Linked DNA regions of Homo sapiens. The protein of the gene in region 1 purifies or fractionates together with the protein of each later gene. This does not show direct contact. Each region holds a gene or a part of one and is shown on either strand. Other genes may lie near its edges.

The links.
Region 2: the proteins of CDCA4 (region 1) and PPP2R1A purify together in Homo sapiens (affinity purification with mass spectrometry; 5 studies listed by BioGRID and IntAct, with this or other methods). This does not show direct contact.

Annotation. Positions count from the first base shown.
Region 1 is NC_000014.9:105,018,080-105,025,806, reverse strand, and holds the start of CDCA4 (cell division cycle-associated protein 4), read left to right. Parts: upstream 1-4,723; 5' UTR 4,724-4,808; intron 4,809-7,727. UniProt on the Homo sapiens protein: May participate in the regulation of cell proliferation through the E2F/RB pathway. May be involved in molecular regulation of hematopoietic stem cells and progenitor cell lineage commitment and differentiation.
Region 2 is NC_000019.10:52,185,378-52,193,058, forward strand, and holds the start of PPP2R1A (serine/threonine-protein phosphatase 2A 65 kDa regulatory subunit A alpha isoform), read left to right. Parts: upstream 1-4,674; 5' UTR 4,675-4,719; coding exon 4,720-4,797; intron 4,798-7,681. UniProt on the Homo sapiens protein: The PR65 subunit of protein phosphatase 2A serves as a scaffolding molecule to coordinate the assembly of the catalytic subunit and a variable regulatory B subunit.

The DNA.
Region 1 (7,727 bases):
ATTTGTTTAATTTTACTACAGTATACACCAATATCTGTCATTACTAAGTATATATTTAAGTTTACTTACAGTATGTTCAAGTATGTGGTAAGAATTAGTAGACTACAGTAATGTTTGGTTAGGTGTGGTGGTGTGTGCCAGTAGCCCAAGCTACTTGGGAGGCTGAGGCGAGAGAATCACTTCAGCTGGGGGAGGTCAAGGCTGCAGTGAGCACCACTGCACTTCAGCCTGGGCCACAGAGCAAGACCTTGTCTCAAAACAATAACGATAATAGGCTGGGTGCAGTGGCTCAAGCCTGTAATCCCAGCACTTTGGGAGGCTAAGGCGGGCAGATCACTTGACGTCAGGAGTTCGAGACCAGCCTCGCCAACATGGTGAAACCTTGTCTCTACTAAAAATACAAAAATTAGCCAGGTATGGTGGTGGGCGCCTGTAATCCCAGCTACTAGGGAGGCTGAGGCAGGAGAATCGCTTGAACTCAGGAGGCAGAGGTTGCAGTGAGTTGAGAGCATCACACCATTGCACTCCAGCCTGGGCGACAGAGTGAGATTCTGTCTCAAAATAATAGTAACAATAATAATGTCCTCCAGGGAATTGTCTTCTCGTGTCCACACTGGCCCTAGGCTTGGCCACATGTGGTTTGGCCACCTGGACATTGGCACATATGAGCAGAGCAGAGGGAAGTATAAAAAGAGCCCCTGTATTGGTGCCTGCCTGGGCTGGCCTTCCGGAGGATGACAGAGCAGAGATGAGTCAGTCATCTCTGCCAAGACCCAAACACTTGAGTGAGCTCAGCTGATGCCTCATGAGACACAGGATGCTGTGACCCCAGCCGAAATGCCAACCGCAGAAATGCCAGCAAACAAAAGGCTGCCTTTTGAATCTACTAAGTTTGGGAAAGTGTGTCACACAGCAAAAGGTAACTGATATAGAGGTGGGTGTCCTCCTTAATACTTTTCTTTTTTCTTACTTTATCTATAGGGTAGCCTTCCACATGTATTTCTCTAGATTTTTATTTTATTTTTTATGTTTATTTATTTATTTTTTGAGACAGAGTCTCACTCTGTCGCCCAGGCTGGAATGCAGTGGTGCAATCTCAGCTCACTGCAACCTCCGCCTCCTGTGTTCCAGCAATTCTCCTGCCTCAGCCTCCCGAGTAGCGGGATTACGGGTACATGCCACCACGCCTGGCTAATTTTTGTATTTTTAGTAGAGACGGGGTTTCACCATGTTGGCCAGGCTGGTCTCGAACTCCTGAACTCAGGTAACCCGCCCACCTCAGCCTCCCAAAGTGCTGGGATTACAGGCATGAGCCACTGTGCCCGGCCATTTCTCTAGATTTTTAATAGCATTTTGTGAGGTTTCAAAAATATCCTGGGATTTTGCCTGGCAATAGAATAAATGTATATATTCATTTGGGAAGTAAATGAACTCTGGACTCAGGCCCAGTGACACATTTTCACCAGCAATACCACTATGACTCCACTAAGAGAACAACTGGAGTCTCCGCATGGCCTCTCCTGGCCGCTGCCCCATGCACCTCTTCTCTTGGTTAATTTTAATGAGCCTTTTCATGGTAATGAACCATAACCACGAGTACAATAGCTTCTAGGGAATTCTCTGAGTCCTTCTAATGAATTTCAAACTTGAGGGTGGTCTTGGGGCTGTCCCTAACTTTGTACTTGTATATTTAGTTTGCTAAAGATTATACCATGAAGGGGTGTTGAATTTTACTAGATGCTTCTACACTGAGATTTTCATACTTTTTTTCTCCTTCATTCTATTGTCATGAATCATGTTGACCTTGCAATGTGAAATCAACTGTACTCCAGTTCCTGGAGTACACCCAACTTGGTTGTGATGAGTTACCTTTTTTACATTATCATTGGATCTGATTTGCTAATATGTGGTTTGGAATTTTAAACAATGTTCATGAGAGAGAATACCATGTGTGTTTTCTCCCATCATGTCCCTTTCGAGTTTTAGTATCAAATTTGTTAGCCCTGTAGAACAAATTGGTAAGAAGAGTTCCCCTTTATCATTTGGAAGACTCTGTGTAAGACTGATGCTCTTTCTTCAATTTGAGTCTTTTTTTTAACGGATTCTAGTTCTCCTTGTCATCAATTTTCCTGAATACATTAGTTACTGAAAAATATGACTCCAATCTTGGTGTAACCATAGACTTCTATGTTTTTTCTGGTCCTATGTCCTAGCAAGCCTGTTAATATTTTATGACTACAGTTAACAGTAACTTACTGCATATTTTCTAATAGGTAGAGGAGAGGATTTTGAATGTTCCCAACACAAAAGAAATGATGTTTGAGGTGATGGATATGCTAACTACCTTGATGGATCATTATACTTTGTATATACATGTCAAAATATCACACCAAATCTCATCTTGAATTGTAGCTCCTATAATTCCCATGTCGTGGGAGGGACCCGGCAGGAGGTAACTGAATCATGGGGCAGGCTTTCCTGTTCTGTTCTCCGGATAGTGAATACATTTCCTGAGATCTGACGGTTTTATAAAGGGGAGCTCCCTGCACACGCTCTCTTGCCTGCCGCCGTGTAAGACGTCCCTTCGCTTTTCCTTTGTCTCCTGCCATGATTGCGAGTCCATTAAACCTCTTTTTCTTTATAAATTACCCAGTCTCGGGTATGTCTTTATTAGCAGCATGAGAATAGACTAATATGCTCTGGAAGATATTATCTTACTCCAGACATTATTTTAGATCTTTGCCAATTTGACCCGTGGCAAACAGCACTCCAGCATAGCTTTAATTTCCACTGCTCTTGTTCTGATTGGGGCTGAGCATCTATTCGCCTGTATAGGAGCATTTGTATTTTCTTTGCTCTGAACTGTGTTTATATTCTACGCCCACTTTTCTTTTCTTTTTTTAAGAGATGGGGTCTCACTCTGCTGCCCAGGCTGGAGTGCAGTGGTGCAATCATAGTTCACTGCAGCCTCCAACTCCTGGGCTCAAGGGATTCTCTCACCCCAGCCTCCTGAGTAGCTGGGATTACAGGTGGGTGCCACTATTTCCAAACCACTTTTCTTTGGTGATCTAGATTTCATTTGCATTTGCAGAATATCTGTATATTAAGGAATTTAACCTTTATGTGGGATACAGCCAGGAAAAACTTTTTTCCCCATTTGTCTTTTCACTTTGACATGCATAAACTTTAAATTCTCAGGTAGTCACCTTTATCAAGTCCCATTTTCTTTTACCTGGGCAGTAACCTAATGGGATTTTCTACTTCCAGCCTTCCTGCCACCTCCTCCAAATCTATTACCAACAGTGATTCTTGGTGGTTGTGGTGCCTCATGCCTGTAATCCCAGAACTTTGGGAGGCCAAGGTAGGAGGATCACTTAAGGCCAGGAGTTGGAGACCAGCCTGTGTAACAAGACAATACCCTGTCTCTACAAAATTACCAAAAAAAAAAAAAAAGTTAGCTTGGTGTAGTGGCACACTTCTGTAGTCCCAGCTACTTGGGAGGCTGAGGCGTGAGAATCACTCGAGCACAAGAGTTCGAGGATACAGTGAGCCATAATCACGCCACTGTTGTCCAGCCTGGGCGAAAGAGACCCCCTTTTTTTTTTTTTTAAATAAGAACAGTGATTCTTTTCAAGCACAATTCAGATTCCAGTTCCTTCTCTGCTGACCATGCCAGTAGTCTCCATCCCACTCCCAGAATAGCCCAAAAGTCCCTCCACCCCTCACACTTAAAACTTTCCCACGAGATCACAGGGTTCTTTCTCACTGCACTGAGACGTGCTCCTGCCTCCTGCCCCTGCCTCGGGCTTTGCCCCAGCCATTCCTCTCCTGAATTCTCGTCCACTCTTCCTTTTGGTGCTTTAAGACGCTCCTTATCCTAGAGACCTATGTGAGCAGCGCCCCCACGTCACTCCCAGGTTTCCCGACAGCATTTCAGCATTTACCACCGACCTTGGCGCATCCGCACCTGCGGATTGATCTGAGGATTCCCCCCCAACTTCCAGCACTTGGCTCTCAGCTGCAGCCACGCCTGCCGGGCCTGCTGCAGGCGCTCAGGGTATTACTTAAGTCAATGATTGCAGGTTCTCGCATCCTATTTAAAACCTTTTCCACTAAGAGATTTAAAACACGTGTCCCCTGCTTTGAACTTTCACGTTACATTTCTTACGTGTAAACCTAGGAAGCCTTTGGAGATAACCCCGGTCTCTGGAGAGGCTTGGATAGACCTCGGAGCCCAGACCGCCCGGGAATTGCCGTGCCCGGCTCCTCCCGACCCCGGCACGGATGCCTCGGCGGAGAAGTTGAGCCAGGCAGAAGCGAGAGAGTCCAAACCTCTGTTTGCCCCGCCACGCCCGCCCGAGGGCCCCACGTGGGCCCCAGGCGCAGGCGCGTTCAGTTCAGGGCCAGACGCGCGGAGACCTGGGAGCTGGCGGGGCGGGGCCGGACTGGGCGCGGGGAGACCTGGGAGCCGGCGGGGCGTGGGCGTGGCGGGGCCGGGCGCAGGGGCGGGGGCGGGGCAACCGAGGGCGCGCGCGAGCCCCAACGGCCGTCGCCGCAGCGCGGGAAGACGCGCCACAGATGCCCCGCCCGCGTGGGTTTGAACAAGAGGCCCCGCCCCCGGCCCGCGAGTGGCCAATCAGCGGGCGTAGCGCGCGGAGAGCGCAGCGTCGACCCTTTGTGGACGCCGAGTGGCGGTCGCTCGCCCCGCCCCGCGCCGTCGGGCGCTCCTTCCTCAGCGGCGGGAAGCTGGCGGCAGCGGCGGTGGCGGTGGCTGAGCAGAGGACCCGGCGGGCGGCCTCGCGGGTCAGGTGAGCGGGCCCGGCGGACCGCTAGGGCGTCTACGGCGGCGTGCACTTTTGTGCTGCAGGGCGCGGAGGAGCCTGGGGGCGGTGCGCGGAGTCTGTGGCTCCTGGCGCTGGGTCCGGGGCGGAGGCGGCGCCCGGGACCACCGCTGGGGCTGCCGCGGCGCCCTCGCCGCCCTCCTGGGCGCTGGTTCCCCCGCGGGGTGGCCGCTGCTGAGGGGGCCCGGGGAACAGAGGGGCCCGGGCCGCCGTCTGCGTTCCTTGCGGAGCGCGGAGCTGGGGCTTTGCCGAGGCCTGCGGGCGGCCCCACGCGGGAGCCGCTTCACGAGGGCCCGGCTGGGGTACGCAGCGGCGTTTCCCGTACCTCGGCTCTAGTTGCAGCGGAGGGAACGCCAGGCGCGCCGCAGCCCCCTCTGTCGGAGCCCGGCCGCGGAGAGGGCCGCGGATGTGGGAGGAGGCCCAGACCCCGGGCGGGTCGGCCAGCGCCGTCTTCCCTGGGCTCCTCCGGCGGTGCGAGGTGGGACTAGGGAAAGTCCCCGAGACACTTGCAGAAGTCAGACGCAAGCCTCCCTCCGCGTCTTCAGACGCTTCTCGCCCCGCAAACAGGATCGTCGTGGCAAAGGCTCCGACAGCTTGCTGGAATAGAGGGTCTCCGCTGCCTCGCTTCTCCTGTGGCCTTCGTGTGGGACGCACGGGACGGCGGGACCCAGATAACCGTTCTCTCAAAGCGAGCCACAGAAAAACATTGCCTGTTCACAAAACTTACGTTTTATCAACTTTCTACGTACAACCACTCTATTTTCAAGTGTCACCGTGTTTTATAATTAGGGTGGAAATCCAGAATACAAAGTGAGTTACACCCCTTTTCTAGGAAGAGTAGTAGGCTGTATCTTGGAAAAGGGGCTAGGAAGTTTCCCTCAACTTGCCACTGGAACATGTTTTCAGGGAAAAGAAGGAGTGTGTTTCGTTCCAAGTAACAAAAGTACCTGCAATTGGCTGGGCGCGGTAGCTCACACCTCCCAGCACTTTGAGAGGAGGCCTAGGCGGGTGGATCTCCTGAGGTCCCGAGTTCGAGACTAGCTGGCCAACGTGGTGAAACCCCGTCTGTACTAAAAATACAAAAATTAGCTGGGCGTGATGGCGCATGCCTGTAATCATAATCCTAGCTATGTGGGAGGCTGAGGCAGGAGAATCGCTTGAACCAGAAAGGCAGAGGTCTCAGCCGAGATCGTGCCATTGCACTCCAGCCTGGGCGACAGAGCGAGACTCCGTCTCAAAAAACAAAAAAAACCAAATACCTGAAATTAACATAACAGTAATTGTTCATGAACAGCCTCCAGGAGACTTGTAGTGGAAGGTGGAGCTCCCACTCAGTACTCAAGACTGCAGACCTTGCTCCTCTTCTCCCTGTTTTTCCGATAAAGTATTTCAAAGCTTATCTGATGTGTGAGGAATGGAAATTGTTGATGATTTGCTTAAAAACCCGAAACTTTGAAGTGGCTGCAAGTCCAGCTGTGAAGGTGACAGGTTAGGTCAGAGTTGAGTCTGTCCCCAACCGTCCCAGCCCTACTGATCAGAATCTGGGAATCTGCGTTTTCAGCCAGCCTCGTGGTATTGCTCAGCCACGAAGGTGTGGCCACTGCTGCTGTAGTGAAGGACCAGTCCCCGAGCTGTACTCTGCTTGCCTGAGCAGCACTGCGGGGCTGCTCCCTGCTGGCCTCTGCCTCGGTGGGCCTAGGTTGCTCTGTCCCTAGTGGCCTGTTGGCTGTTCCACCTGCCATGTCGGACATGTCCTCAGTCCGTCTGGCCCTCTTCGTTTTTCTCTGTCTGGTCGGTGCTTGGTTTAGAAGCCTGAGGGCAGTGCTGGGAGTTGACTGAGGGCTTGGCTGTCCCGGTAACAACCTGTGGAGTTGGTGGGATTTTAGGCATTTAACTAGATGTGTAGAAAGAGCTTCAAAACTGAGCAGGGGGCCAGGCATGGTGGCTCACGCCTGTAATCCAGCACTTTGGGAGGCCGAGATGGGCGGATTGCCTGAGTTCAGGAGTTCGAGATCAGCCTGGCCAACATGGTGAAACCCCGTCTCTACAAAAAATACAAAAATTAGCCGGGTGTGGTGGCGCGTGCCTGTAGTCCTAGCTACTCGGGAGGCTGAGGTAGGAGAATCGCTTGAACCTGGGAGGTGGAGGTTGCAGTGAGCTGAGATTGCATCACTGCACTCCAGCCTGGGGGACAGAATGAGACTCTGTCTTAAAAAAAAAAAAAAAAATTGAGCAGGGAGCTAGGCTCCACAGCCCCACCGGTATGGTATAGGGCCCTTTCTCATTCCATATTAGAAGGAGTTAAGCAGCCTCAGGCAGAAGTCACACAGGAGGCCCTCAGGGAGCTGGGCCCAGCCCAGGCATCCCTCGGGGCTGGTTAAGACCATGCTCTTGCTGACTTTGTCCCAAACACAGATATAACCCAATTCAGGGTGATCCTCACAGGCCAGCTTCTCCGGGCCCAACCTTATCCTCTTCACTCCTGAACACATGTTCTGGGTGACAGCTCTTTGGGGTCACGTGACTGTAAAAAGCACCTGTGAGCTTTACTCTTTTTTGTATTAATAGTAATAAACTTGTCAGCATTTTAAAATATTGGGTACAACACAGAATTAACAGCTGCTGGAGATTTGGAACATTGGAGAGGAATGATTTGAAGTGACTGAACAGGGATATTCTCCTGGTACCAGAATGGGATCTGTGCATGGGATGAGATGCAGTGGAGGATGATGGGGATTATCTCTCGTCCCTTGTAGAACTTGTGTAACCCAGGCACATCTATGCAGGTCCCTGGGTTACACAAGTCCTACAAGGGGCGAGAGAGAATCTCCATCATCCTGGAGGATTCTTTCTGGCCCCTTGTAGCATTTCCCACCCTGATGGTGG
Region 2 (7,681 bases), on another chromosome or scaffold:
CGCAGTGAGCTGTGGTCATGCCACTGCACTCCAGCCTGGGTGACATAGTGAGACCCTATGGCAGGATCTCACCATTTTTTCCTCCAAAAAAAAAAAATTGTTAAAAAAAATTCCAGTATTGTGCAGTAGCTGGATGTTTCAAATTTTAAAAAGAAGAAAATAAAAAATAAAATAAGAGTCTTGATAGAACTTGCTTCTCCCTTCCACCATGTGAGAAGGACACAGCTAGATGGCACCATCTACGAATCAGAAAGTGGACCCTCACCAGACGCTAAATTGCTGGTGCCTTGATCTCAGACTTCCTGGCCTCCCAAACTGTGAGAAATAAGTTTCTGTTGTTTATAAGCTACCCAGTTTATGGTATTTTGTTACAGCAGCCTGAACTAAGACACGTTGCAACTTCCACTTTCCATTCAACATATATCGTCCCCATTTCTCTTACTCCATACATACAGATCTAAGTGGTTTTTATGAAAGTTCTTTAATAATCCATAGTTGGTATGTCCGATATTTTATGCAATAATCTATCAAATAGTGGACTTTCCTATTTTACATATGTAGAAACTGAGGATCAGGGCCGGGCACAGTGGCTCACACCTGTAATCCCAGCACTTTGGGAGGCCAAGGCGGATCACTTGAGCCCAGGAGTTCGAGACCAGCCTAGGCAACATAGTGAGACCCCCGTCTGTACATTTTTAAAATTAAAAAAAAAAAAGGCCAGGTGTGATGGCTCACGCCTGTAATCCCAGCACTTTGGGAGGCCAAGGCGCACGGATCACCTGAGGTCAGGAGTTTGAGACCAGCCTGACCAACATGGAGAAACCCCATGTCTACTGATAATACAAAAATTAGCTGGGCATGGTGGCGCATGCCTGTAATCACAGCTACTGGGGAAGTTGAGGCACGAGAATCGCTTGAACCTGGGAGGCAGAGGTTGCGGTGAGCTGAGATCGCGCCATTGCACTCCAGCCTGGGCAACAAGAGTGAAGCTCCATCTCAAAAAAAAAAAAGGAAACTGAGGATTAGGAAAGCCCAAGACCCAACATCAGGAATGTCTCCTAGTCCCAGAATCTCTTGCATTTGTACACCCCACCCCACTATGAACTCAGGCATAGTAAAATAATCCAAAATCCCCCATCAAATATTTTATATATATACATATATATGTGTGTGTATATATATATATATACACATATATATGTGTGTGTGTGTGTATGTATATATATATATATATATATATATATATATATATATATATATACATACACATATATATGTATTTCTATTTTATTTTAATTTTTTTTGAGACAGGGTCTTGGCTGTTGCCCAGGCTAGAGTGTAGTGGTGTGATCATGGCTCACTGCAGCCTCGATCTCTTGGGCTCAAGTGATCCTCTTGCCTCTGCCTCCTGAGTACTACAGGGATATACCTGATGTACTACAGGCATGTGCCACCACTCCCGGCTAAACTTTCTTTCTTTTTTGCAGTGACAGGGGTCTTGCTATGTTACCCAGGCTGGTCTTTACCTCCTGGCTTCAAGCAATCCTTCCTCCTTGGACTCTCAAAGTGTTCAGATTACAAGCATGAGCCACCACCACACCTGGATTGTATCATTATATTAAAGCTGAGTTTTAGTCAAGCAAGCCTTTGGAGTCAGACTGCCCAGGTTCAAATTCCAGCACCCGATGAGTGGGGTGGCTCCTGTTTGTAACCCCAGCACTTTGGGAAGCCAAGGCAGGTGGATCATTTGAACCCAGGAGTTTGAGACGAGCCTGGGCAACACAGTGAGACCCCAGGGGTCTCTACAAAAATTAAAAAATTACCCGGGCATGGTCACACATGCCTTTAGTCTTAGCTACCGGGCATTGGGGGGGCCGAGGTGAGAGGACCACTTGAGCCTGGGAGATCAAGACTGCACTGAGCACAGAACAGATTGCGTCCCTACACTCCCAGCCTAGGCAACAAGGCAAGACCCTGTCTCAAACAAACAAACAAATTCCAGCACCACTATTACCATCTATGAGAACTTGGACAAATTCCTAAAGTTCTCTATGCCTCGGTTTCCTCATCCATTAAATTAGGATGATGCTGCTACTTTACATATATCATAGAGTTATTGTCAGGGTTAAATGAATTAATTTACTGAATACACTTTACTGTAGCTATTATCACTGGCATTGATCTGTATAGGTATTGATTTGTATAGGTATTGATCTGTATAGGTATTGATCTGTATAGGTATTGATCTGTATAGGTATTGATTTGTATAGGTATTTGTTAAATACTTATTAAAGTTTGCAGTTTTGTTTTGCATTTTGGAATCCATAATTTGTTTTTATTTTGTTTCTGAGATTTATAATGCCTCATTTAAGCCTCTGAAAATTCCTAGGCCCTAAGCACTTCAAAGGCCACCAGCCCAACATCCCAAGCAGCCTGACACCAAGACAGGCACGCATAGCTAAAAAGATCCCTAGCCTCAGAGACCTTGGGGCTGAGAGGAGTCCTGGGAATAGGGAGGGCTGGGACTGAAATATTCAACCCCATCCCCACTTTTATGAGCAGCAGTTTCCTAACTGCAGTGGGTAAGGGTATTTGAAATAGATGCTGGGCCGGGCACGGTGGCTCACACCTGTAATCCCAGCGCTCTGGGAAGTCCAAGTGGGCGGATCACCTGAGGTCAGGAGTTCGAGACCAAAGACAGCCAACACGGTGAAACCCCGTCTCTACTAAAAATACAAAATTAGCCGGGCGTGGTGGCTCATGCCTGTAAATTCCAGCTACTCCGGAGGCTGAGGCAGAAGAATCGCTTGAACCCGAGAGGTGGAGGTTGCAGTGAGCAGAGATTGAGCCACTGCACTTCAGCCGGGGCAACAAGAGCGAAACTCCGCCTCAAAAAAAAGGCCGGGTGCGGTGGCTCACACCTGTAATCCCAGCACTTTGGGAAGCCAAGGCAGGCAGATCACCCTGAGGTCAGGAGTTTGAGACCAGCCTGGCCCAAAGTGGTGAAACCCCGTCTCTACTAAAAATACAAAAATTAACCGGGCGTTGTGGTAGGCGCCTGTAATCCCAGGTACTCTGGAGGCTGAGACAGGATAATTGTTTGAACCCAGGAGACAGAGGCTGTAGTATGCCGAGATCGGGCCCCTGCATTCTAGCCTGGGCAACAGAGCGAGACTCCGTCTCAAAAAAAAAAAAAGAAAAAGAAAAAGAAGAAAAAAGAAATAGATGCTGTGGGTATTCAGATCTGTCAGAGTGCTAGCTCAGCCTAGCCCTTCAAGTAGCAGAATAAAGGAGGAAAGAGCATCCCAGGCCTTCCCATCCCCATTCAACTCCCTCAGTTAGAGTGGTCCTAAGATTGCGGTGGGGGGGTAGGGCTGTGTTGAAGAGGTTAAAAACAGAGATTAGTCAGATCCAATCCTGCTCCCACTCTATGGAGGAAACAAATTCGAATACATAGTCACAGCCCAGGCTCTGGGATTGAGAGACAGAGAGAGAGATTGGATTGGAGAGAGAGAGAGAGAGAGATGGGATTGGAGAGACAGAGAGATAGATGGGACTGGAGAGACAGAGAGAGGGGTTCTGTGGCTCTGGAAGCCTAGAGAACAGAGCCTGAAGACAGAGAGGAAAGGGAGTAAAGGGGAGGCATTTATGCAGAGATCTCAGAAGTGAATATGAAAGGCACCCCTAGCAGAACGCACAGCTTGGGCAAGGAGGCTTGCTGGCATGAAAACGCAAGAAGTGCTCAGGCAGCTGTAATTCTCCAGGACATCAGATAAAAGGTAAAAAACAGATGGGAGACGCGCCTAGACAGGGTATTGAATACCAGCCCGAGGGGCTTGGGTTTCATCCAAACAGCAAGGCAACTGAGCTCAACACAGTGAGACTCGGTCTCCACAAACATTTTTTTAAAAATTGGCCGGGCCTAGCGGCGCGCGCCGATAGTCCCAGCTATTTCTGCAGGCTGAGGCGAGAGGATCATTTGAGCTCGGGGAGGTCCAGGCGGCAGTGAGCCAAGATCCTGCCACTGCACTACAGTCTGGGCAACAGAGCGAGACCCTGTCTTTAAAAAAGTAAAAAAAAAAAAAAAAAAAAAAGAAAGAAAAAGAAAAAAGAGAGAAGGGCAAGTCGCTCCCTTCTCTGGGCCTTGGCATAAATCAAGCACAAATCAAAGTCTCACTCCCTCCTCCTGCCGCGCAACGGCGCGGAGAGCCAGCCAGCCAGCCAGCGGAACCACGGCCTGGTAACCCAAAACCTGCACACCCTCCAGCTCCCCACAGGACGTCACGTATTACCACCGACGCACGCGCAGAAGCCTTCCCGGGGACTCAAGAAAGGGCAGGCTTAGCCTCCTCCCCATGTCGCCCCTCATTGGCTAGAAACTACTGCTCGTCTCGGTCGTTGTTAGCAGCGACCAGGGCGGGTACAATCTTGGTCGCTAGGACACGGCTAACTTCCGCTTTCTTCCCCCTCTCCTAGGCTCAAACTAGTCAAATCTTGTTCACTCGACCAATGGCAAATCGGAAGTGGGCGGGACTTCACAAGTCCGGACCAAAGAAACGCGAGCTTAGCCCTGGGTAGCGCGGCCAATGGCCGTGGAGCAGCCCCTGTAAACTGGCTCGGGCGCCCCCACGCCCGCCCTTCCTTCTTCTCCCAGCATTGCCCCCCCCACGTTTCAGCACAGCGCTGGCCGCAGTCTGACAGGAAAGGGACGGAGCCAAGATGGCGGCGGCCGACGGCGACGACTCGCTGTACCCCATCGCGGTGCTCATAGACGAACTCCGCAATGAGGACGTTCAGGTCCGGAGGCTACGGGGGACTTGGGGAAGACGCGGAGGGGTACCTGGGGGCACGGGCGGCCCTCGCGGAGAAGACTCAGCGTTCGCTGGGAGTGGCGGAAGGGGGCGACGGCCAATCAGCGTGCGTCTCTTATCTCCCCGGTTGCCCGGACTCCTTGAGACGGCGCTCCCGATTGGGTGTCGGCCCAGTGGAGGGCGGGGGCCAGCGCTAGCCTCGAGGGTCCCGGGCCTGCCCTGTGCGCGCGGCGGTCCGCGGTCCTGGGAGGTTGTGGCCAGGGCTGGGGTCTGCGGACTGGGTCTGGGAGAGAGGAGGACTCCGTGATTGGCGGCGGCCTCTGAATGGCCTCTTGGGGATGTGGGGCGCGCATGACTTGCTCCAAGTAGGGGAGGGCCGCCGGGTGGGTCGGGACCTGGGAAGGTTTTTTTGTTTTCTGGGTTTCGACTGCTGGGCCAAGTGGGGACCGAGAGGCGAAGGCCTGCCATCCTAATTCCTGCTCTTCCTCCGCCTCTCATTTTGGTTTAGGTGTCCTAAGAGGACGGGGACGCAAAAACACCCCCCCACCAAAGGTGGGGACTAGCCAAGTTTAGGAGCGAATTAGGTTGTAGAAACCCGCCTCCCCATCTCCCCGGATCCTCCCATTGACCAGGATAGGGGTTGAGGGATTTGCTAAGCAGATGAACATTTATTTATTTCTTTTTTTTGAGACAGTCTCTGTGTCGCCCAGGCTGGGGCTGGGGAGCAGTGGCGCGATCTCGGCTCAGTGCAACCTCTGCATACCGGGTTCAAACCATCCTCGCCCCTCAGCTCCCTAATTAGCTGCGATTACCGGCGCGAGCCACCACGCCCGACTAATTTTTGTATTTTTAGCAGAGACGGGGTTTCACCATGTTGGCCAGGCTTGGTCGGGAACTCTTGACCTCAAGCGATCCACCCGCCTCGGCCTCCCAAAGTGTTGGAATTACAGGCGTGAGCCACCGCGCCCAGCCCGGATGAACATTCCTGGTTATGGGATGAGGTGACCCAAGGCTCTGAGCCGGGCTGGTGTGGGATTGAGAACAGTTAGAACTGCAAGTCCACCTCCCACCTGCTGTGTGACCTTGTGCAAATTACTTCACCGCTTTGGGTCTCTGTGTTCCATAAAATATGGGCTAATTGTAGTCCTGGTCTTGCTGGAGGGACTTGTGAGGGACTGAACGAATTATGACACAAATAAAAAGTAGAATGGTGTCAGGCCTGTTGTAAGGGCTCGATAAATATTAGCTGTAATTATTGGGAGTGGTGATTAAAGAGGTCCCATCCTCCCTTTAGGTCTGTTTTCCCATTTATAAAATTGGACAAGGTGCACTGGGTAACCTGCCAAACGTGGGTCTCGCCTCCTAGGTTCCTGGTATATCACTGTTTCTGGTGGCATACAGGTTGTGGTTGTATTCCCGGCCCTTCCACTTGTTACTGATTGACAAGGGCAAGTTAGTTAATCTCTCTAGGCCTGTTTCCTCTTCTCTTTAATGGGGTTAATTACCTAGTTCATAGGGCGGTTGTATGAATTCTTTTGTTCAGTAAATATATGCCATGTATGAGATATGATGCTGGGGATATAGTGGAGACACCAGTTGCTATACAGGATCCAGATGTGAAACAGGTCAGCAGAGCTGAATAGATGAGTGTTTGAAAAGTGATGGGAAGGAAACAAATAGGATGTAGTGGTAGCGAATCCATATTGAATTGGGCCTCTATTCTGTGCAGGGCGCTGTTCTAAGCACTGGTATATAGCAGGAACAAGACAGAAAAAACTCTAGGCCTTGGGGAGTTTATTTTGTAGTGAGGAGAGACAGACAATAAACAGAGTATACTGGGGATAAGCATTAGGGAGACAAATAAAAATAAGAGAGATGGGGTATATATAGGGCATGCAGTTTTAAAGTGTGGTCAGGGGAGGCCTTGTTGAGATCCTGTTTGAGAACACGCCTGAAAGCAGAGGGCACAGCAAGTACAAAGTGGGGTGGGGCAGATCCATTTTAAGAAGGCCAATCAGGCAAGGCCCCTCTGAGGATGCAGAGTTTGAGAAGAGATTGAAAGAAGGTGGGGGAGAGCCTCCCAGGAAGAGGGAACAGATATGTAATGGCCTTTTTTTTTTTTTCTTCTTTTTTTGAGACGGAGTCTTGTTGCTCTGTTTCCCAGGCTGGAGTGCACTGACGCGATCTTTGCTCACTGCAACCTCCACCTCCCGGGTTCAAGCAATTCTCCTGCCTCAGCCTCTTGAGTAGCTGGGACTACAGACGCAGGCCACCACGCCTGGCTGATTTTTGTGTGTGTGTTTTTAGAAGAGACTGGGTTTCCCGGTGTTGGCCAGGCTGGTCTCAGACTCCTGATCTCAGGTGATCCTCCTGCCTCGGCCTCCGAAAGTGCTGGAATTACAGGCGTGAGCCACTATGCCCGGCCAGTTTTTTGTTTTTTTTAACTCCAGGATCACTTCCTTCAGCTATCTATCCTCCCATCTTTTCATTCATCCATCCATCCACTAACCAGCAGACATTTGTAGGGAGATGTCTTTGTGCCAGGATCAGAGCTAGGCAGCTTACCGGTTTATTCTAAAGAATATTGCAAAGGATACAGATGAAGACACATGCAGGGTGAGGTGTGGGGGAAGTTGTGTGGAGCTTCCATGCCCTCCCTAGGCATTCCACCCCCCAGGAACCGCGAGGTGTTCATCTGTCTGGAAGCTCCTATGGCTGCTTTTGTGCTACAGCCCAGAGTTGCATGGTTGTAACAGAGATGGCCGCAAAGCTTCAAATATTTGCTGTCTAACCCTTTGCAGGGAAAAAATTGCTGACCTCTGACTTAAACCATCTGCGTAACAAATTATTGGGTGCTTGCTCTATGTTAG